Homo sapiens: one gene and its partner. The protein of the gene in region 2 purifies or fractionates together with the protein of the main gene of each other region. This does not show direct contact. Each region holds a gene or a part of one and is shown on either strand. Other genes may lie near its edges.

Evidence for each region.
Region 1: the proteins of CTSO (region 2) and LYPLA1 purify together in Homo sapiens (affinity purification with mass spectrometry; 3 studies listed by BioGRID and IntAct, with this or other methods). This does not show direct contact.

The regions. Positions count from the first base shown.
Region 1 is NC_000008.11:54,090,419-54,101,360, forward strand, and holds part of LYPLA1 (acyl-protein thioesterase 1), read right to left. Parts: exon of another isoform or gene 10,932-10,942; intron 10,522-10,931; coding exon 10,490-10,521; intron 1-10,489. Other genes in the region: LYPLA1-TCEA1 readthrough, read right to left, coding at 10,490-10,521. UniProt on the Homo sapiens protein: Acts as an acyl-protein thioesterase. Hydrolyzes fatty acids from S-acylated cysteine residues in proteins such as trimeric G alpha proteins or HRAS.
Region 2 is NC_000004.12:155,935,425-155,946,366, forward strand, and holds part of CTSO (cathepsin O preproprotein), read right to left. Parts: intron 7,841-10,942; coding exon 7,732-7,840; intron 7,033-7,731; coding exon 6,893-7,032; intron 4,115-6,892; coding exon 3,947-4,114; intron 2,060-3,946; coding exon 1,938-2,059; intron 1-1,937. UniProt on the Homo sapiens protein: Proteolytic enzyme possibly involved in normal cellular protein degradation and turnover.

The DNA of each region.
Region 1 (10,942 bases), on a different chromosome or scaffold from region 2:
GCACACACTATATTGTAAATTCTTATCTCTGTATACTGTACTTCTACATACAAATGTACTATACTTCTACATACAAATGTTATGTTAAAGAATTATTTCATCCCCATGTGACCATCTCACCTCATAATCAAATGACCCTAAATCCCTCACTAACCTACCCCCGCCCTCACTAAACTTAGTAATAAATGCTGGTATATCCAGTGCATTGTTGGCACCGCGGGACCAGAAGACAGTGACCCCCCTGGACCCAGCTTTCACTATCTTGTGTGTGTCTATTATTTCTCAACCTGCCGATCCGCCTGGGAACAAAGAGAGAGCCCCATTGCATTGCGGGCTGCTGGCCAGATCCCACAATACCCATGTGTCAAGGGTGGGACCAGGTAGAGATAATTGAATCACAGGGGTGGTTTCCCCCATGCTGTTCTTATGACAGTGAGTTCTCATTTGATCTGACAGTTTTATAAGGGGCCTCCCCCTTCGCTCAGCTCTCATTTCTCTCTCCTGCCACCCTGTGAAGAGGTGCCTTCCACCTTTCCTGAGGCCTCCCCAGCCATGCAGAACTGTGAGTGAATTAAACCTCTTTTCTTTATAAATTACCCAGTTTCGGTAATTATTTATAGCAGCAAGAGAACTAATACACAGGGTTTTGCCATGTTGCCCAGACTGATCTCAAACTCCTAGGCTCAAGCCATCCTCCCACCTCAGCTTCCCGAAGTGATAGGATTACAGGTGTGAGCCACCATGCCTGGCTCCAACCTCCATTCTACATAAGAAATACTAAGAACCAGGCAGGGCATGGTGGCTCATGCCTGTAATCCCAGCACTTTGGGAGGCCGAGGTGGGCGGATCACCTGAGGTCAGGAGTTCAAGACCAACCTGGCCAACACGGTGAAACCCTGTTTCTACTAAAAATACAAAAATTAGCCGGGCACAGTGGCGGGCACCTGTAATCCCAGCTACTCAGAAGACTGAGGCAGAGAATCGCTTGAACCCAGGAGGCAGAGGTTGCAGTGAGCCGAGATCACGCCACTGCACTCTAGCCTGGGCAACAAGAGCAAAACTGTCTCAAAAAAAGAAAAGAAAAGAAAAGGAAAGGAAAGAAAAAGAAAAGAAAAAAGAAAAGAAAAGAAAAGAAGAAAGGAAGGAAGGAAAGAAAGAAAGAAAAGGAAGGAAGGAAGGAAGGAAGGAAGGAAGGAAGGAAGGAAGGAGAAATACTAAGAACCCTTATATGAGAAAAAGAAATAGGAATCTTGGGTTCTAGTCCCCACTCAGCCACTATCTAAAAGTGTGGTCACAGACAGTTCCGTCAGTCTGGTGGTTCTCAGAAGTGTGATCCCCAGACCTGTACTATCAGTATCCAATGAGAACTTGTTAGAAATGCAAATTCTGGCCAGGCACACTGGCTCATGCCTGTAATCCCAGCACTTTGGGAGGCCCAGATGGGAAGACAGTTTGAGCCCAGGAGTTAGACTAACCTGGGCAACATACTGAGACCCTCATCTCTACAAAAACTTTAAAAAATAGCCAGGCATGGTGGCATGCAGCTGTACTTCCAGTCACTTGGGAGGCTGAACCCAGGAGGTCAAGGCTGCAGTGAGCTGTGTTCACGCCACTGCACTCCAGCCTGGGCAACAGAGTGAGAGACCCTGTCGAAGCAAGGAGGAGGAGGAGGAAAAGGAGAAGGAAGAGGGGGAGGGGGAGGCAGCGGCGGCAGAGGAGATGGAAGAGGCAGAGGCGGCGGCGGAGGAGAACCCTGTCGAAGTCAGGGGGAGGAGGAGGAGGAGAAAGACGGAAGAGAAGGAGGAGGAGGAGGAGAAGGAGAAAGAAGGAAGAGAAGGAGAAGGAGGAGAAGGAGAAAGAAGGAAGAGAAGGAGGGGGAAGAGAAGGTGGAGGAGGAGGAGAAGGAGGAGACAGAGAGAGAAGGAGGAAGAGGAGGAGAAGGAGAAGGAAGAGGAGGAAGAAAGAAGAAAGAAGAAGAGGAGGCATGCAGACAAATTCCTTGGTCTCATTCCAGACCCACTCAATCAGAAACTGGCAGTGGGGCCCAAGAATCAAGTCTTTCAAGTGATTTTGATGCATGCTATAGTATGAGAATCATGCCTTTCTAGTTCTCAGTTTTCCCATCCATAACCAGGAGCTAGTTGTACTGGATGATTCGAAGGTCTATACAGGTTATAAAACTCTGACTCCAACCATATTAATATAAAAAGGATGGCCAAGCTGTAGCCAACTCTTTTGATAATTTTCAGTGACAATGAAAAACTCAAGATTTAAGAATTCTGGCTGGGTGTAGTGGCTCACACCTGTAATGCCAGCACTTTGGGAAGCCAAGGTGGACAGACTGCTTGAGCTCAGGAGTTTGAGACCAGCCTAGGCAACATAATGAGTCCCTGTCTCTACTTAAAAACAAAACAAAACAAAACAAAATCAGGACCTGTGTGGTGGCACGCACACATATTATTTCCATTTGTTCATTATCCTGTAGTAATATGGGTGTAGAACAGAGATTCTGTCTGGGTTTGTAAAAGAAACACCACTCATCCCCAACCCCATTCATGTAGCACGTTATTCTTATGAACTCTCCTATCAGTCCCAATCAGTCTTACCAACTAACTAGACAAGAAAAAAAATGACCTAAGACAGATCAGATTCTTGACTGAACACCAGAAGTAGGGTTGATATAAGTCAGAGCTAGGATCGTTCACTTGTGGATAACACGAGTGTGTCCACACTGAGAATTACGCAAATCTACAGAAAGAAGCAAGTGAGAGACCATAAGACCAGGGAAAGGTAGTGAGAATAATGGTGTAGTTGAACAGTGTTCCCCCCAAATTCACATCCACCTGAAACCTCGGAATGTGACTTTATTTAAAAATAGGCTCTTTGCAGATTTCCTTAGTTAAGAGTTGAGATCACACTTGATTAGGGTGAGCCCTAAATCCAATAACTGGTGTCCTCCTAAGAGGAGGAGAGAACAGAAACACAGCAAAGGTCACATGAAGACAGAGGCAGAGGTTGGGGGTATGGTGCCTGAGGCCAAGGAAAGCCGGGAGTTATCAGAAACGGAACAGGCAAGGACGGATCTTCCGTTAAAGAGAATGTATGTGGCCCTGTTGACAGCTTGGTTTTGGACTTTTGGCCTGTTTAACTGTGAGAATGAATTTCTGTTGTTTTTAATCCATCTAGTTTGTGGTTATTTATAATGGCAGCCTTAGGAAACTAATACATGTGGTGATTGATGCTCCTCGTATGTCTCACCCTTTAATTCTTTATTTATTCATTTATTTGTCCAACAAATACTTAGTGCTATTACATGTCCTATACTATTCTAGCACTGGGAATACAGTATTAATTTAAACAAAACACAAAAAATCCCTGTGCTGAGGTATATTTTATGGTATGTGAATTTTATCTTAATGAAAGTTTATTAAAGAAACCTTTGCCTTCATGGACTTTATATGCCAGTGGGCTGCCCTTCTATCCTTCCACAAATTCTAATTTTTGTTTAAGCTAGTTGAAGAGTTTTCTATTCCTTGTAATTAAATGATCTCCAAATCACATTCTATAATTCTATTATTAATAGTTCTTGATTACAGGAAGACTTGCAAACTTATTACGGTCACAAAACATATCCATGTTGCCAATTTATTTTAAATCCTCACCTTGTTTGACCTCTCAGTAAAATCTGATCCAGTCAACCACTTATTTTATCTTTCAAACATTCTTCTCTATACTTTTATAATCTCCTTGGTCTAGGAAATGTCACAGGGACTGGTAATACAGATAAGTAATTCCTGGAATACATCGGGGCTGGGGAGTAGCAGGGAGGGGGACACATGAAGAGAACCAAGCTTTCCACCAGGCCTTTCCTCCTCCTCGTTTCCCCTTAATTGGAACTGAGCTTTCAGGTGTGATATTCAGCAGATGGGGAGAGGTCCCATGAATGAAGCATAGCTGTGAGCTGGTGCAACTGGAGGGGCACACTCCACAGTTGCACTGTTGGCCAGAACCCCCCAAGAACAGAAGTCAGGTTCCTCACGGAATTACAAATATGGAAAGGGAGAAGGCTATAATAAACCCTGTGGTGCTGGGCTGCAATTGGAGGAATCATTATAAACTCAAGATTTTGAATACTTATAAATACTAAAACTGATATGTGTGTACATATGTATGTATGTCCATATATTCTTAGCTCTGTCCACTGCAAGGGTCTAGATCTGGGAGCACATATAGCATCCAGATCTCACTGTCTACTAAAAGGAACCAGGGTTCTTGGAAAAATGGCTGAGTCCAGGACTAGAGCAGGAAACATATAAGACAATCCTAGAAAAAGTCTTGTACCATAAAGTGAGGAAGTGATCAAATAAGAATGAGGATATGTCCAAAAGACACCAAGTACCAGCTTGAAAGGGTTACTGTGGCCAACTAAAGGACAATTTGAGCATCAAAATAAATAACTAACTTGATTGTTATCCTCTGAATACAATAGGAATCCAAGAGTCTGTACTGATTTAAAATTTTGAAACAAATGAGTATCTACATAAGTAATAAATAAAGGAGAAAGGAAAGCTCTACCCCACAGTAGACTGCTAAATAATAAATCCAGAATAAAGGAATTTTTTTTTTTTTTGAGACTGAGTCTCACTGTCGCCTAGGCTGGAGTACAGTGGCACCATCTTGGCTCACTGCAACCTCCAGCTCCCAAGTAGATGGGACAACAGGCATGCACCATCCTGTCCAGCTAGTTTTTTAATTTTTAGTAGAGACGAGGTTTCGTCATGTTGGCCAGGCTGGTACTGAACTACTGACCTCAGATGATCCTCCTGCCTCAGCCTCCCAAAGTGCTGGAATTACAGGCATGAGCCACTGCACCCGGCCAGAACAAAGGAAATTTAATTAAAAGACCATATTTTAACTTTAAATATTTAAATATCATAAGATATTCGGCAACTACCACAACAATAGATTCTGGCAATAATCATTAATGGGTGCTAAATCCATGGGTGAACATATGGTGGGGATCAGGAATATGTTATAATATCAAGGTATCTCCCCACAAAATATTTTTTAATATTTTAATTACATATTCAATATTTTAAATATTTCATATGTTATATTTATTATTTTAATGTGGAGAAACCTGGCAGACACCATCTTAACCAAGTGATAAAACACATCAGTAACAACAAAATCATCATGAGGTCTGCCTAATATGATGCACTGTTATGGACACAGCAATACCCCTATAGTGTTACTGTCAAAAAGGTATAAATCACAAAACATCAGATAAACCCAAACTGAGGGACATTCTACAAAGTAACTGGCTTACACTTTTTTTTTTTTTTTTTGGTAGACACAGGGTCTGGCTGTTGCCCAGGCTGGTCTCAAACAGCTGGGCTCAAGCGATTCTCATGCTCAGCTTCCCAAAGCACTGGTATTACCATACCCGGCCTGTATTCTTGACAAAGTGTCAAGGTCATGAAAGACAAGGACTGTTTCAGAATAAAGAAAACTAAAGAGAAATGATAAGTAGAGGCAATATGTGATCCTAGACTGATAAAGGACATTATTGGCTCAAATCAATGAAATGTGAATGGAGCTGGTGGATTAGACCGTAGTATACCATCAGTGTTAACTTCTTAATGATGGTTATACTGGAGTGTCCTGGTACTTAAAAATGTACACTGAAGAATTAAGCTGTAATGAGGCAACACGCCTGCAACTTATTCTTTAATAGTTCAGAAATATTAACAATTGGGTAATTTGGGTGAAAGGTATAAGGAGCTATAAATGTTATTTCTGCAACTTTTATGTAAATTTCAAGTTATTTAAAATGAAAAGTTAAAAAGTTTAAAACATAACAGAATAGAACATAACCTATTAAATAAATCTGAGTCCAGGCATGACACAGTGGTTCATGCCTGTAATTCCAGGGAGGGACTGGGAGGCCGAAGTGGGCAAATCACTTGAGGTCAGGAGTTCGAGACCAGCTTGGCCAACATGGCAAAACCCCGTCTCTACTAAAACTACAAAAATCTGACTGGACACTATGGCTCACGCCTGTAATCCCAGCACTTTGGGAGGCTGAGGAGGGCAGATTACGAGGTCAGGAGTTTGAGATCAGCCTGACCAACATGGTGAAACCCCCCCGTCTCTACTAAAAATACAAAAAAAATTAGCCAGGCGTGGTGGCACGTGCCTGTAATCCCAGCTACTCATGAGGCTGAGGCAGGAGACTCACTTGAACTCAGGAGGCAGAGGTTGCAGTGAGCCAAGATCACGCCACTACACTCCAGCCTGGACGACAGGGCGAGACAAGGTCTCAAAAAAAAAAAAAAAAATTAGCCGGGTGTGGCGGCACGCACCTATAGTCCCAGCTACTTGGGAGGCTGAGGCAGCAGAACTGCTTGAACCTGGGAGGTGGAGGTTCAGTGAGCCGAGATTGCACCACTGCACTCCAGCCTGGCTGGGTGACAGAGCGAGATTCTGTCTCAAAAAATAAACAAATAAATAAATAAATAGAAAATAAATCTGAGTCCATACTAACTAAATGGGGAGTAGCAGATTAATAAACAAAATGGAATGACAAAAAAAAAGGAATGACAGAATTGGAAAATCACACTGTAGAAATGATTGACTCAAGCAATTATCAATGGATGATAAAAATATTGGGTGAAAGCTTGATGAACAACTTGCATAGTCACAAAGTATCCCCCCGCAACTTGCTTTTTAATTACAAAAGGAAAGTAACTGCAGTCGAGACCTGGAAGATACCACCTTAATCAAAAGATCGAAGTTACAACAATAAAAGGACTCAGCATCATTAGTCTACTGATGCGCGCAATGAATAGGACATATTGTTTACATGGTATTTATACCAGAAATGCATAAACTGAATCTAATCATGAGTAAATACACAAACCCAAATTAAAGGACTAGCCTGTTCTCTGCAGAAGTGTCAATGTCGTGAAAGACAAAAGAAAATCTAGGGAATTGTTCCAGATTAAAAGAGACAAAAGAGACTAAAGAGACGTGATAACTAAATATAATGTATGACTAGGGAGGAGATAGCTATAAAGGATATTAATGGAACAATCTGGCAAAGGTTGAATGCATAATATATTAGATAATACTAAATGTTAAATTTAATGGGATAACTTTTCTGTGATTATATAATGTTTAAAATACCCTAGTCCTTCTCACCCACAGTTTTGTTTTCCATGGTTTCAGCTGCCCACAGTCAACTGTGGTTCGAAAATATTACATGGAAAATTCCAGAAATAAACAGTGGGGGATGCTCTAAAACCCCTAGTGGATGCCTGAATCCATGGATAACACCAAACCCTATATATACTATGTTTTTTCCTATACATAATGCTTGTGATAAAGTTTATTGTGTAAATTAGACATAGGAAGAGATTAACAATAATAAAACAATTATAACAATATGACAACATCACTTCTCTTGCACTTTGGGGCCATCATTAAGCAATGTAAGGCTTATTTGGATAAAAGCACTACAGGCTGGGCGAGGTGGCTCATGCCTGTATTCCCAGCACTTTGGGAGGCCAAGGCGGGCAGATCGCTTGAGGTCAAGAGTTCCAGACTGGCCTGGCCAACATGATGAAACCCCGTCTCTACTAAAAATACAAAAATTAGCCGGGTGTGGTGGTGCACGCCTGTAGTCCCAGCTACTCAGGAGGCTGAGGCAGGAGAGTTGCTTGAACCTGGAGAGTGGAGGTTGCAGTGAGCCATGATTGTGTCACTGCATTCCAGCCTGGGTGACAGAGCAAGACTCTGTCTCAAAAAAAAAAGCAAAACAATACCAAAACAGTTGACCTGATAACCCAGATGGCTACCAAGTGACTAACAGATGGTGAATGGATATAGCATGGATACGCTAGGTAAAGGAATGATTCGTGTCCTGGGTGAGACGGAATGAGATTTCATCACAATACTCAGAATGGTGTACAATTCAGGCCAGGCATGGTGGCTCATGCCTGTAATCCCAGCACTGCGGGAGGCCGAGGTGGGTGGATCACTAGAGGTCAGGAGTTCAAGACCACCCTGGCCAACATGGCAAAACCCCATCTCTACTAAAAATACAAAAAAATTAGCTGGACGTGGTAGCACGCGCCTGTAATCTCAGCTACGCCGGAGGCCGAGGCACAAGAATCACTTGAACCCGAGTGGCAGAGGTTGAAGGGAGCCGAGATCGTGCCACTGCACTCCAGCCTGGGTGACAGAGTGAGACTCCATCTCAAAAAATAATAATAAAATAAATAAAAAAGAATGGTGTACAATTTTAAACTTATAAAGTATTTCTGGAATTTTTCATTTAGTATTTTCAAACCACAGTTAACCACGGGTAACTGAAACCATGGGAAGCAAAACTGCAGGTAAGGGGAGACTACAATATCTTAAGTATTAAATTGCCACTTGTCAGGCTGACAGGTTCGAAGTTTCATCATGCACTCATGGAACCAATCTAGAGTCAGCCTTTCCTTAGCATTATCCCACCAAATAATTTCAGAACTGGAGACCTTTGTTTTTTCTTTTATCACAACAGGTTAAAAAGAAGGATACTTTTTTAATATAAACTTAACTTTTGGTCAAGATGTAATGGATGTTCTTGGTATTTTTGATCCTAATAGTCTTCACCATTTTTACTTTTAGCTTCAGTCTGTGGAATCTGCCTAGACTGAAGTTTTTTTTTTTTTGCTTGAACTAATCATTCAGGCATAGAAGTGCTCATTATTGGCAAAGTTAGAGGATAGCAACCTTCTCCCTGACTTGCAACATCAAGAAAGGTTTGGCCATAAAATAGAGATTCTGCTATTCGAGTTTCATTTGGTAAAATAAGTTCATCATTTTCACAGGACCACTGGATTGCCAGAAAGAGTGCTGCAACCTTTTCTGTAACTCCATACAAAGTTTGTATTACATAACTCGACTTATTAGGCAAAAAATAGGAATCACTTTTAAGTGGTGGCTCACGCCTGTAATCCCAGCACTTTGGGAGGCTCAGGTGGGTGGATCATTTGAGGTCAGGAGTTCGAGACCAGCGTAACCAACATGGCAAAACTCTGTCTCTACTAAAAATACAAAAATTAGCTGGCATGGTGGCAAGCAACTGTAGTCCCAGCTACTCGGGAGACCCAGGAACCCAGAAGGTGGAGGTTGCAGTGAGTCAAGATCACGCCACTGCCCTCCAGCCAGGGCAACACAGCAGACCCTGTCTCCAAACAAACAAACAAAAATCTAGCCTAATGGCATTTTTTTTTTTTTTGAGTCTCACTCTGTGGCCCAGGCTGGAGTGCAGTCGTGCAATCTTGGCTCACTGAAGCCTCTGCCTCCCAGGTTCAAGTGATTCTCTTCTCTCAGCCTCCCTAGCAGCTGGGATTACAGGCATGCACCACCACACCCGGGTAATTTTTATATTTTTAGTAGAGATGGGGTTTCACCATATTGGCCAAGCTGGTGTCGAACTCTTGACATCAAGTGAACTACCCACCTCGGCCTCCCAAAGTGCTGGGATTACAGGTGTGAGCCACCGCGCCCGGCCCCAATGGTTCATTTTAAAGAAAATTTAGTCGTTCTGGGGCTACTTTATCAAAATTTATTTATCTTCAGTTTTCCTCTATTTCTGCAATTTTTCAACAACATTCATATTTTGCTTAAGTTTCACAGATTATCACCAATTTAAATATAAAAACAAAAACATCTCAATATAGAAAAAGCTTGAGTAAAAGATAAATCATGTATCTAAAGTTAGTACAAAAGGCCAGGCTCAGGCAGCTCCCACCTCTAATCTCTGTGCTTTGAGAGGCTGAGGCTGAAGGATCACTTGAGCCCAGGAGTTCAAAGCTGCAGTGAGCTAAGATCCTGCAACTGCACTCCAGCCTGGGCGACAGAGAGAGCCCTTGTCTCTAAAAATAATAACAAAAGAAAAAAGCAAACAAACAAAAAATAAAATAAAAATAAGTAGTTAGTACAACAAATTGTTTGATAAGCCTCCAAATAAATCTTTGAGTTGCCTCCCCTGCCTTTCAACTCATTAGAGTGAACATCTAATCCCTCTATTCAGAATGCTGCATGCCTTATGTTGCCACTAGTTCTCTTATCAAAATCAACTAGTTCTTCTCTTCAATCTGCTCTGAAATTTTAACTGCTCTGGAAAGCTCTCAATTGCACACCGTCCCTACTAACATTCCACGGATCTCTGGTATCCAATACCCAAAGCAACTAATGAGGAATTTGAAATTTTAATATGTTCCAGAAACCAGAGTTAAAAAATCAATAAACTCACGATGATAAGGGGAAAATTCTGAGGGTTTTCAAAACATAAAATCACCGCACTGTAAGATACATTAACTGGCAATCTTAAAATACCATTTTAGCGCCCTTAAACATTAAACCTTTGAACGCGTAAACAAAAGTTGCATGACCCAGTTTCATTACTGTTACTATTAATAATAATGGTACCTACCCAGTATCTCCCAATCCATGCAGGAAAATCACCTATAAGAGAAGAGGAAAATTAATAAGCAATGCCTAAATAAGCCCACACAGGATTGTTACACACTAGCTTTGCTTAAGGTGGAAAACGGAACGAAACCTACGAGAGAATTACACAACACTATCTTCGGCGACTTAATCTTTATCGACCTCTTTTAAATGGCAAAAATTCTGATCAACTTCTCCCTTTATTTCCTGAGATAATGAATGGGGGGGGGGTAGCACTGAGAGGTCCCAGTTAGACATTGAGTGCAAATGATCACATTCTAAGAAAAACAGTTTATCTCTTTCAAGTGAAATCAGGAACATCTCACATATCCTGTAGAATTTTTCCACTGCAAAAGCAAGCTTCCGGAGGCAAAAATAAGTTTGACTTTTCATACACGAGTTTTCTAAAAAACAGTACGTCTGACCTTGTAGGACA
Region 2 (10,942 bases):
TGTTTTTGCCTCACGATCTTTGCATTTACAGCCTCTCTGCTTGGAACCATGTTCCCCCACATATCTGCGTGGTTAAGTCCACGCACTTCTCCAAGTCTTCACTTGAACATAACCTTTTCAGTGAGTGAGGCCCTGCCAGGCAACCCTTTCTCAAATTGTACACTCCCCCTACTACCAGATCGTTTCTCTTCCTCCCACTGTTTTCATTTGTTCTCTTTGTTAATTATTACAGCCAATATGCCACATGTATTTTTATTTTTTGTGACTGTCTGTCTCAATTACTAATGAGGGCAAGGTTTTTGTCTGTTTTGTTCTCTGCCAAATCCCCAGAACTTAAAAAAAAGTCAGTAAATATTTGAATGAATAAATAAATCAAAGAAAGATCTTCTTGCAGTCAAATGCTATCAGTTTAGCATTGCACTGTTAGAGTTTAATCTTCAATATAAACAAGATATTTTGATTGGGACCTCTTCCTTCCTAATCAAAGGCCCAATGCCAACAACTCCTGCATTCTCTCTTTCCCTTAATTCAGACTAATGCCTATTATTCTTTTGCTTCTTCTTAATTTTTTTTTCAATTTCCTACCATGATAAGGGATTCCCTTAATCCCTTTTAATGATATTTTGTAAATCTAGTTTTTTCTTGTACACATCCTTCCCTTATACTCTCAAGGAAGTCAGAGTTTATAGGGCATACTTTCTGATTTTAGAAAGCACATTACCTTTATCCCCAAATGAGATGTTGACCACGGTACTCAGTGACCCTGCACATTTTATTATAAATCCTACATGGTCTGCCAGCTGTGGAATTAAGGCTGTCTGGTGTATGGTTCCTGGTGTCACCCTGAGGACCCTTGTTGCAGACCGGAGCTGTGTTGACAACCTGACAGTTCTCTGGCACACTTATGCTCATTTAAACGGGTACATTTTGTTCAAGGACGCAATTTCACCCTTGATTTCTTTCAGATCCCATGGGTAGATACCATCTGGATCAAGGGATTATTTTATATTCAGGACCACTAAGTCATAGGGGATTCTGTTACCTTATCCAAATTTAATTTAGTTCCTGTTTTCTCTGTTTCAAAAGACTGCAAAGTTCCCATCATATATTTTCTTAATGAAGCCAGGAGTTGGTTGGGTCTCCCTTTGTCCTTTTCACCCATGAACACCTATTTTGCACTCTATCAAATGGTCATGATGAGTCTCCAGCCAGCTCTGTGTTTTTCATGTGTTTTTAAAGCATTTTTAATGATTGTTTTCCCCAAAACTATCCAAAGTTATCCTGCCCTTCAGTTCCAACACAAGTCCTTTTCCTCAGCCTGTCTTTATCTATCCCTACATTCCCATCATGCTTATAGTGTATGCTACATAATTTATCTTCAGTAGTATATGCTTCCCTCTTTTCTCTAATCTGAAGTTTTGTGTTATATTTTTCAAATGGCTGATGTCTTGAAAAATGCAAAGAACATAGAAGGTGTTCAAAATATGCTTCCTGATATGTAGCCTACGTGATATTAGCTGCACAGTCTGTACAAAGCAATTCTGGATGGACTCACCATTAAGATTGAAATATGCTAATGGTAATATAACACCTAAATTTGATAAGATGAAGGTGGTATATATAAATATAAATTATGCACTAATAATTTGTAAGTATAATAAAATATAAAATATAACAAATAAATATACATATAAATTGTACCTTACACAGAATTAAAATTTTTCATTTCTATCGTAATGACACTTGGGAAAATAAGTAGATTATAATTAAGAAACAACATTTACAACATTTCATTGTAATTGCTACTCTTTCTAGTAAAAAGTATGTTTTACAAGGATTAAGAGTATGCAGTGATGCCTTCAAACAAATTATTAACCAGTCAATAGATCATAAATTAAAAATGTATAAAGAAAAACATAATACAATAAGATCTTTACCTGAAGTCATATGCAGAATAACCTTTGATTGAAAATCCAGAATGTGAACCAGAAAAGTAATGGCACAGACCATTTTGTGCTTTAAAAGGATATTCTGAATCTTTCACCAGTTTTACTTGCATCTAAAAGAAAACAATCACTGAACATGTTTACTGTCAATTGTTTTATAAATCAAATAGAACTTACTTCACTGTGTCAAAACAGGTTCAATTTCACACACCTTCATCATGTGGATATACTTTGCGTTCTTTTTTTTTTCTTTTTCTTTTTTGAGACAGAGTTTTGTTTGGTTGCTCAGGCTGGAGTGCAGTGGCTCGATCTCGTCTCACTGCAATCTCCACCTCCTGGGCACCAGTGATCATCCCACCTCCGTCTCCCCAGTAGCTGTGACTACAGGTATGAGCCACCACGCCAGGCTAATTTTTTGTATTTTTTGTAAAGATGGGGTCTCACTCTGTTGCCCAGGCTGGTCTTAAACTCCTGGACTCAAGAAATCCACCTGCCTTGGCTTCCCAAAATACTGGGATTACAGGTGTGAGGCATTGTGCCCAGCCTATACTTTGGGTTTTTAATATTATAAATTAAATCTTTAGGTGCTTGTTCTGGATAGTCTAGACATTTGGAGTCAATATCTTTCCTTCTCCCTTACTTCTCTTTATCTTACAGCATCCTTTTGTAGATCCTCCATGGATCTAGTAACAGTCTTGTCATCTTTCTCCTGACGGTGCTATAGGGCAGCTCACTTTCCTCCCAGTGCTTCTGGTTCTGCCAAGTCTTTCAGATTCCATCCAGTGGTTTATACACAGGCAACGGTTAGGTCAAGCATTCTTTCTATCACTTCACTTTTATGCCATTCATATAGCATATGTCAAATACTTCATAGTTATCTGTACAAAACCCTCCCTTTTTGAATGCTAGGCTAATGAAAGGGAGGAGACTCATAATTCATTGTCGTCTACAGTGTGTACAGAGCAGGTCCTGGAATACGTGATTAAAAATGCAACCAATGGATAATGGAAGAGAATTCAGGTTTGGGGAACTCTGGTTTGATGACGTTCTACAGAAACTAATAGCACCCTCATTGGCAAATTTCATGCAGTTGATATCGGATCTGGGACACTGTCAGGGCAAGTGCTAAGAACGCTGAGGGACACTGGGGTATACTGAGCAAAGCCCTACTGTGAGAGGCTGGGGACTGAAGGTACAACTCCGGCTCAGCTACTGACTTGACAAAATGATCTCACTTCTCAGGCTTCATTTCTTCATCTATAAAAAGAGCTACAGGCTGGGTGTGGTGGCTCATGTCTGTAATCCCAGCACTTTGGGAGGCTGAGGCGGGTGGATCACAAGGTCAGGAGATCGAGATCAGCCTGGCCAATATGGTGAAACCATGTCTTTACTAAAAAAACAAAAACAAAAAACAAAAAACAAAAAAAACAAAAAAATTAGCCAAGTGTGGTGGTGGGCACCTATAGTTCCCAGCTACTCCGGAGGCTGAAGCAGCAGAAACACTTGAACCCGGGAGGTGGAGGTTGCAGTGAGCCAAGATTGTGCCACTGTACTCCAGCCTGGGTGACAGAGTGAGACTCTGTCTCAAAAACAACAACAACAAAAAAGAGCTAAAAAATTAGTCTCTAATGTTCCTTTTAACCTTAACATTCAGAAATTCTATGAAAATAAAAAAAATATATTCTCATCTTTCCGGGATATTATGAGATATTCAGATCTGCAAAAAAGCATGTATATATTAAGAAATGTTAAGAAATAAATATAAATATTTCTCTGAAGACAGACTTCAGATTTTTCCCCTTTTGATTTCTTGACAACTGCTTTGCCTAGAAGTGATTCATTTTTAAATATTCTGATTAATTACTTCATGCTTTGATCATCTACATTTCCGAACGTGGAAACATTATTTAATATATGTGAACAAACTGTTTGAATTTTGAACACACAGTAAACAAGCAAAAAAGGAAATAAAGAGTTTAAGAGGTTGAGAGACTAGTCACCTTGTTTAACCAGTTCAAAGCATTGAGAGTAGAGCCTCCATTGCAGCCATAATTATTATACGAACAGTCAATGACCTGCTGGACACTTAGGTCTTCCAGGGGCTTCCCCTTTATTGCATAAGCAGATTCCACTGCCCCCACCACGCTGAAGGCCCAGCATCCTCCACACTGTTTAAAAACAGAAAAAGGGGTGGTATTTCCAGGGTTTAAATCAACTTACCAACATCTCTAAATGTAACAAGTTATCAAATCAAGTAAGGCTTCCAGATTCTGGAAACCTACAAAATAAATACGCCTATCCTCTAGATTTTTAAACTGAAAAAAAGAGAAAACCAAAAGTCTCTTTTGAGCATCATTTAATTATTAGTTCATGTTGTCAGCATTATTACTATTCTAAATTTGGCAATGCAAGATAAAAGTGAATTTTTAGAGACCGAGGAAATACTTGGGCTAACTGATGATCTTCTAAAAGACCATTCAGTTCACTGAATATGTGACTTCTCTTTGTAAGTGGCTTTTCTTCTGGAGAGTGTGTGCCGACTCCCGCCCCAACCTTCCATCCCCCTTGCTTTTTTAAGGACACTCTGCTTCCATGGTCATACACCACTTCCATCCTAAGGGTGAGGAGGGGAAAGATGCATGTTGTGCTAATTATTTGATGGAGATAAGAGAATTAATAAATATTAATGAATTACTCTTTAGGCTATAAAGATGCCCGATTAAGTATGCTTATAGTGGATGTACATGAAATGTCCTAAGGATATAAATCCATATTAGTCATTACTCCAGTATTGGCTGCCAATCATGCTGATAGTGGATCTCTTAATTTGCTTTTACTTAACAAACTAGAACAAAAGAATAAAAGAACTAGTCCTGAAAGAAAGAGAGGAGACAGAGGGAATGAAATTAGGGATCGTAGGATCACGTAAAAGGAAGAAGGATCCACAGAAAAGGCAGAAGAGAGTAGGATTTGAGACTGGATGAAACTAACATAACTGGAGGGCCATGTGTGGCAGAGTTAGACCAAAAAAAAAAAGGAATGACAATTGGATATCTTTGCAGAGTTAAGTTTTGAGCAACTTTATGGCTTTAAGTGCTTTTTTAAAGGTTATATCTCTATCTCTAGTGCCTATGGCATAGTAAAAACACTCACTAAGTGACCATACAGCAGGGTCTCCAAACTTTGACAAAGGTGAACACAGGGCAGCTCATGCCTGTAATCCCAGCACTTTGGGAGGCCAAGGCAGGCGGATCATGAGGTCAGGAGTTCAAGACCAGCCTGACCAACATGGTGAAACCCCGTTTCTACTAAAAATACAAAAATTAGCCAGGCATGGTGGTGCGCACCTGTAATCCCAGCTACTAAGGAGGCTGAGGCAGGAGAATCTCTTGAACCTGGGAGGTGGAGGTTGCAGTGAGCCGAGATCGCATCACTGCACTCCAGCCTGGGTGACAGAGTGAGACTCCGTCTCAAAAAAAAAAAAGAGAAAAGGTAACAGGCTGCTGACATCACCCCTATAGCCAGCTTTAGTCAAGCCACAAGGGCAGTTCCTGCTTAAAAAAAAAAAAAAGTCTCTCATACATTCCTTTAATTAAAGATCTCTAATTAAAAGTTCCCTCTTCAATACACTGTGGACAATTTTTGAAAGGATTAGATTTATGTCTAATTGACATGTTATTACAAATCCAATAATAAAGCAAATGATTTGGTGGTAAAACTTAATGTACAAAAATAAATATAGACTCTGAGAAGCAAAAATCATTCTAACTACACATTGACTGCGAAACAGCTGGCACCAAAACACTTTCCATAAAAGGGAAGGCTGAATGATCTGTTGAGGTTTCCACTGCAGACAAACTGAGACTATCCCCTCTGGTTAGGGGTTTGACTTTGCCTGTTTGGCAGGCATTCCCTATGCCAACAGTTGGGAGTGTAGACGGGTAGGGAAGGTCAGCAAAGTATGCACACACCCCTCAAACGTCTGCCAGCTAGGTGGGTTCACTACATGCATTATAGGTCATACCCACCCACATCTGCTCTTACCACTTTCCTTCCTAGTTCAAAGGCACCTCCTTCCACCACTTCAGAATAACTCACAAGCTGCTGCCCTGCCAACTCCCATGTCCTCAGCACACTTTGAGTCTCTTTTCAAGGTAAATTGCTATATTTATTGCAGTACTTACATATTTCTTAATCAGTAAACATGTGTAAAACTGTGCTACTGTGTCTATTAGTTTTCTGTCTTTTAAAACATATGTCATTGACTAAGCTCGTAGGTAGTGTAACCTAACCTCATTTCTCCCATAATCCCTGTCATGCTACTGCTCAATTCTGCATAGGTGGTGATTTTCTGGAATGTATGCGTCACGTTATGGCTGAACTGACTACTAACTATACTTTTAAGGCCCACAGATTCAAAGGTATATGATCCTGTGAAGACGGGGGCAGATTTTCTGACAGAGCTTGCAAGATGAGGCTTGAGAACCCAGGAGATTCGGCCACACTGTTGGTAAATGTATCCATTTTCATTTTACTTTTTCACTTTTTTTTTCTTGAACCATTTAAGCCTTTAGTGCTCATGTTTACCTTCTCCAGCCTCTCATCTGCTATTGTACAGAAAGCTTGGTATCTGTGATACAGCTACTGGGAAGTATCCCTGAGCTGTTATTACAGCTACTGGGAAGTATCCCTGAGTTATTGTGTTGGTGGCAATGGCAATTAGTAAGAGTACACAGCAAGGAAGGTTTATCTTCAGAAATAAAAGTCAGGGCTTTGACATTTGACTCTCATTCCTCCAGAGATTCTCTTTTCATTGTCATTTTTGGATGACTGAGATGTGATTTTCCTAGAGAAATGATGTTTCCATTACAACTTTGATTAAACTTGACCTCAAAGCTGCCTTTCAATGCTTAGATGATTAGAAAAGAAGAGGGATTTCAACGTACCATCTGCTGGTTTCTCACTTGTGTCACAACCTGCTTGTCCCTCCAGTCAAATCTTAACGGCAAAGACACATTGGGGATGGACATATGTACTTCTGCTGAGTATCTGGGAAACTTGGAAGGTTTGCTTCTTAAATAAATGGCTGAGTAGAAACATAAAATGAAAATACAACCAATATTATATTACAATATATTATATTATATATATCATATATATTTGTTATATATAAAGACAATCAATATTATATTATAGGGAGACAACCAATATTATACTAAAAGACAACCAATATTATATTATATTATATCCTTGAGATTCTTTGGGAGGAACTTTTAAAGAAGAAACAGTAGCCTTCTAGTAGACCTGCTATTTTAGATTTTCTCTTGTGCTTTTCTATAACATAAAATGCATTCATTAAAAACTACAAAAGAGAATTCCTACAATAAGGCTGGAGTTGACACATAAAATGATTTGTTTGATAGAACCAGGTCAATAATAAAAATAAGTATAATTGACATCATTTGTTCTATCATAACCCATGGAACCATGTGTGTCCTGAAGAGAAAAAGCACTAGAAAACTGCAGAAGTGATTAGACAATTATCCTTTATAGCCACATGGAAATGTGCATAATTATAACATTCATTTCTTAAGCAGTAATTAGAAGAGACTGGCCATGAATTTATTTTCTTATGTGAGCACATGGTACATGCCTGACATTTAGTAGACACTTAATAAATGTTAACTATTACTCAATATATTAGATTTACAATGAAATATTTATCAAAAGTTAAGCAAGCAAATTAAAATCAGGAAACCACCTAAATAGCAACATCGGACTATACCTTTAAACTCTTCAGGAAACAAATAGGAAAACTGATTTATTCCATAGAAGGCGGTGGAGTTTTCACTGGGAAATAAAGAATTCAAGTATCGATGTCTATTAAGACTTTCCTAGAAGAAAAACAAAAACTATTTCATATCCACTATGTCAGTTTTCCAAAGTAAACTGTGTATAACTAACTTGGAGAAATTTTTCAATTATAAAGTTAAAGCTTGATTTCCTTCAGACTACAATGTAAAGTTGTATAAGATATCCATAGGAGATTCATAAATATTTTCTATTAGAATTATTATCTAATTGCAGACATTTTTTGAGGCTGAGAAAAGTGTATTTTATTCATTTATAATTCCCCATCACCAGGTTTGTTGCAAGCATTCCATATACAGCTGTTAAAGTATTGACATAGTGGGAAAAAAGAAATAGACTGCAAATAAACACTAGATACTAGAAGCAAATTGTCACCTTTAGACATTCACTCATGTGGTTAAACAATTATGAATATGGAATATGTCCTCTTCACCTTTGTGTTTCCCGGAACTAAGTAATGAAGCATGAAAAACAGACTGGGTAAATAAATTAATAAATCAATCTGATTCTATTAAAGCTTTATAGATATCTCTATCTCATGTAGGGTACAAAGGCTCTGTGACAGATGCAATTCTGGAAATATTTGAAGAAGATAGCCTGGTTTCTCTATCTGGAGGGGAAATGTGACCATTATTTACTGATTTCTCAACTTTGAATTTTGTGACAATTTATCTTAAGCTTATCTTTTATATATAAACATGCTTCAATTTCGTAATACTAACCAATTACATAGAATAAATAAAATTTCAGGGGGCTATCATTTGGTACCTTTCCAACCCTAGCGCTTCTACATATTTGTCTATGTACTTATGTGTTTATTGTGTGTCTGTATCAAAAACCTATAAGCAAAATGATGACTGCTTATATGTCTTATTCCTTATGGTGAGACACTCACTTAGCACATGGCTGACACACAATAGATCCTTGATAAGTGTTTGTTGTTGAATAAATAGATAAGTGACATTTTCCATATCATGCCCTTAATAACTTTAAGCTGTTTATTTTTAAGTAAATTATTGCTGGAAGTTGTCATAATCTTATTTTTTTTCCTTTTGTGCATACCTAGGAAGATTGCTAATCAACAAATTAATAAAGTTTTTGAGGTACTTTAAAATAATCTTGATGAAGCAAGGCTTTCAATATAACCTGGATATATAAATGTAAAAATAGAACTAGAATACAAGGTAATTCTGTATATGGCAAATGACAAATATAAGCCAGAGACTATTAACTGCTAAGGAATTCAGAGGATTCATTCATTCAATAAGTACTGCCTGGCCATCTTTGTGAGCTGGAGTAGTCAGGAAGGCACTGAAAATGTAGGATGTTAAGAATGCACAGGAGAGAATGTGGCAGCCATGAGAATGTGCCTCCCAGCCTTCTTTCTATAGGGAGTTTAGCTGCTGCTAGTTGAAATCTCCATGATCACACCAAGGGAAGCCACAGTTCTTACGGGCTGCACCTAGCTCATGACTTAGTGCTAAGGCTTGCTATTTGGGAGACAAATGGGACTCCCCTGACAGCTGGTTTTTGATTAATGACTCCCTGATGGCCTTGCCAAACCAAAGTTTCCTTGGACTGTGAGACAGCATGGAACTCTTCCCCAGTCTTCCTTCCTTTTTTCCTTCACTCAGGGTCAGAATTACATTGCAATCAGATAGCTCTACCTGGACCTCTCCCTATTAGTTCACAGGAATTGCTCCTGTGATTGATTAAAAAAAAAAAAAAAAAAAGCCTGGGAGCAGTGGCTCACACCTGTCATCCCAGCACTTTGGGAGGCTGAGGTCGGTGGATCATCTGAGGTCAGGAGTTCGAGACCAGCCTCGCCAACATGGTGAAAGCCTGTCTCTACTAAAAATACAAAAATTAGCCGGGCGTGGTGGTGGGCGCCTATAATCCCAGCTACTCAGGGGGCTGAGGCAGGAGAATCGCTTGAACCTGGAAGGCGGAGGTTGCAGTGAGCCGAGATCACAGCACTGCACTCCAGCCTGGACGACAGAGCGAGCCTCCAACTCAAAAAAATAAATAAATAAATAAAAAATAAGAAAAGAATGAGAAGACATGAATAACCAATTTACCAATATTAGGAATGAAAGAAGAGCCATGATTACAGATGCTTCAGGCATTAGAAGAATAATATTTTGACAACTTTATGACAATAAATTGGCAAACTGTACAAAATGGACAAACTTTTTGCAAGGCACAGATTGCCAAAGATGAAAGGAGAAATAGAAAACTTGAGCAGCCTTTTATCAGCTAAAGGCATTAAATTTGTAAGTGAAAACTGACTCACAAAGAAAACTTCAGGCCCAGGTGGCTTTTTGGTGAACTTTATACAATGAAGAAAGAAGTAATACCAATATTATCCTTTGAGAAAATCAAGAAGAAGGGAATACGCTGCAACTTAAATAAGACCAGTGTTACCCTGATTCTAAACCAGAAAAATGTATCTAAATAAAATAGAACTACATACCAGTATCCCTCATAAATACGCTGTAGACACAAAATCCTTAACAAAATAGCAAATCAAATCTAACAATATATGTTAAGGACAATATATTGTGACCAAGTGAAGTTTATTTAGAAATGCTAGGTTGGTTTAAAATTTCAAAATCAATCATCAGTACGATACACCATATTAACAGAACAAAAAAGGAATATACCACACACACACCACACCACACCAAATGCGCACACACACACATACGCACGCACATGAGGTATAGACTGGTACGCCCTTTCAAGATCCTTAAAATTACACAAATTGTTTAATTAAGAAAATCTAATTCTAGGAATGGATTTTAGACTCTTGAGTGTAGGCAATGCTGTACGTGTGGGTTCTACACGTGTGTCTGGGAGGGGAGGCAGTAGTTGAGCCACATACTCTATTTAGTTGGAGAGCTAATGCAAGTTTATCTCACTAGATCATTTGTGACATCTACGAGAGAAACAATATATTGCCACTCAAGTTGGCAAATGCCAGATGAAACAAACTTATACATCGTTGGCAGGGAGTTCCCATGTACTTCTCTTAATTTTTGTGTTGCCTTATAAGTGTCATTTCACCATCCAAAGTTTAGGTGTTCCGGTTGTGAAGTAGTTATAATAACACCAATTTAATAATG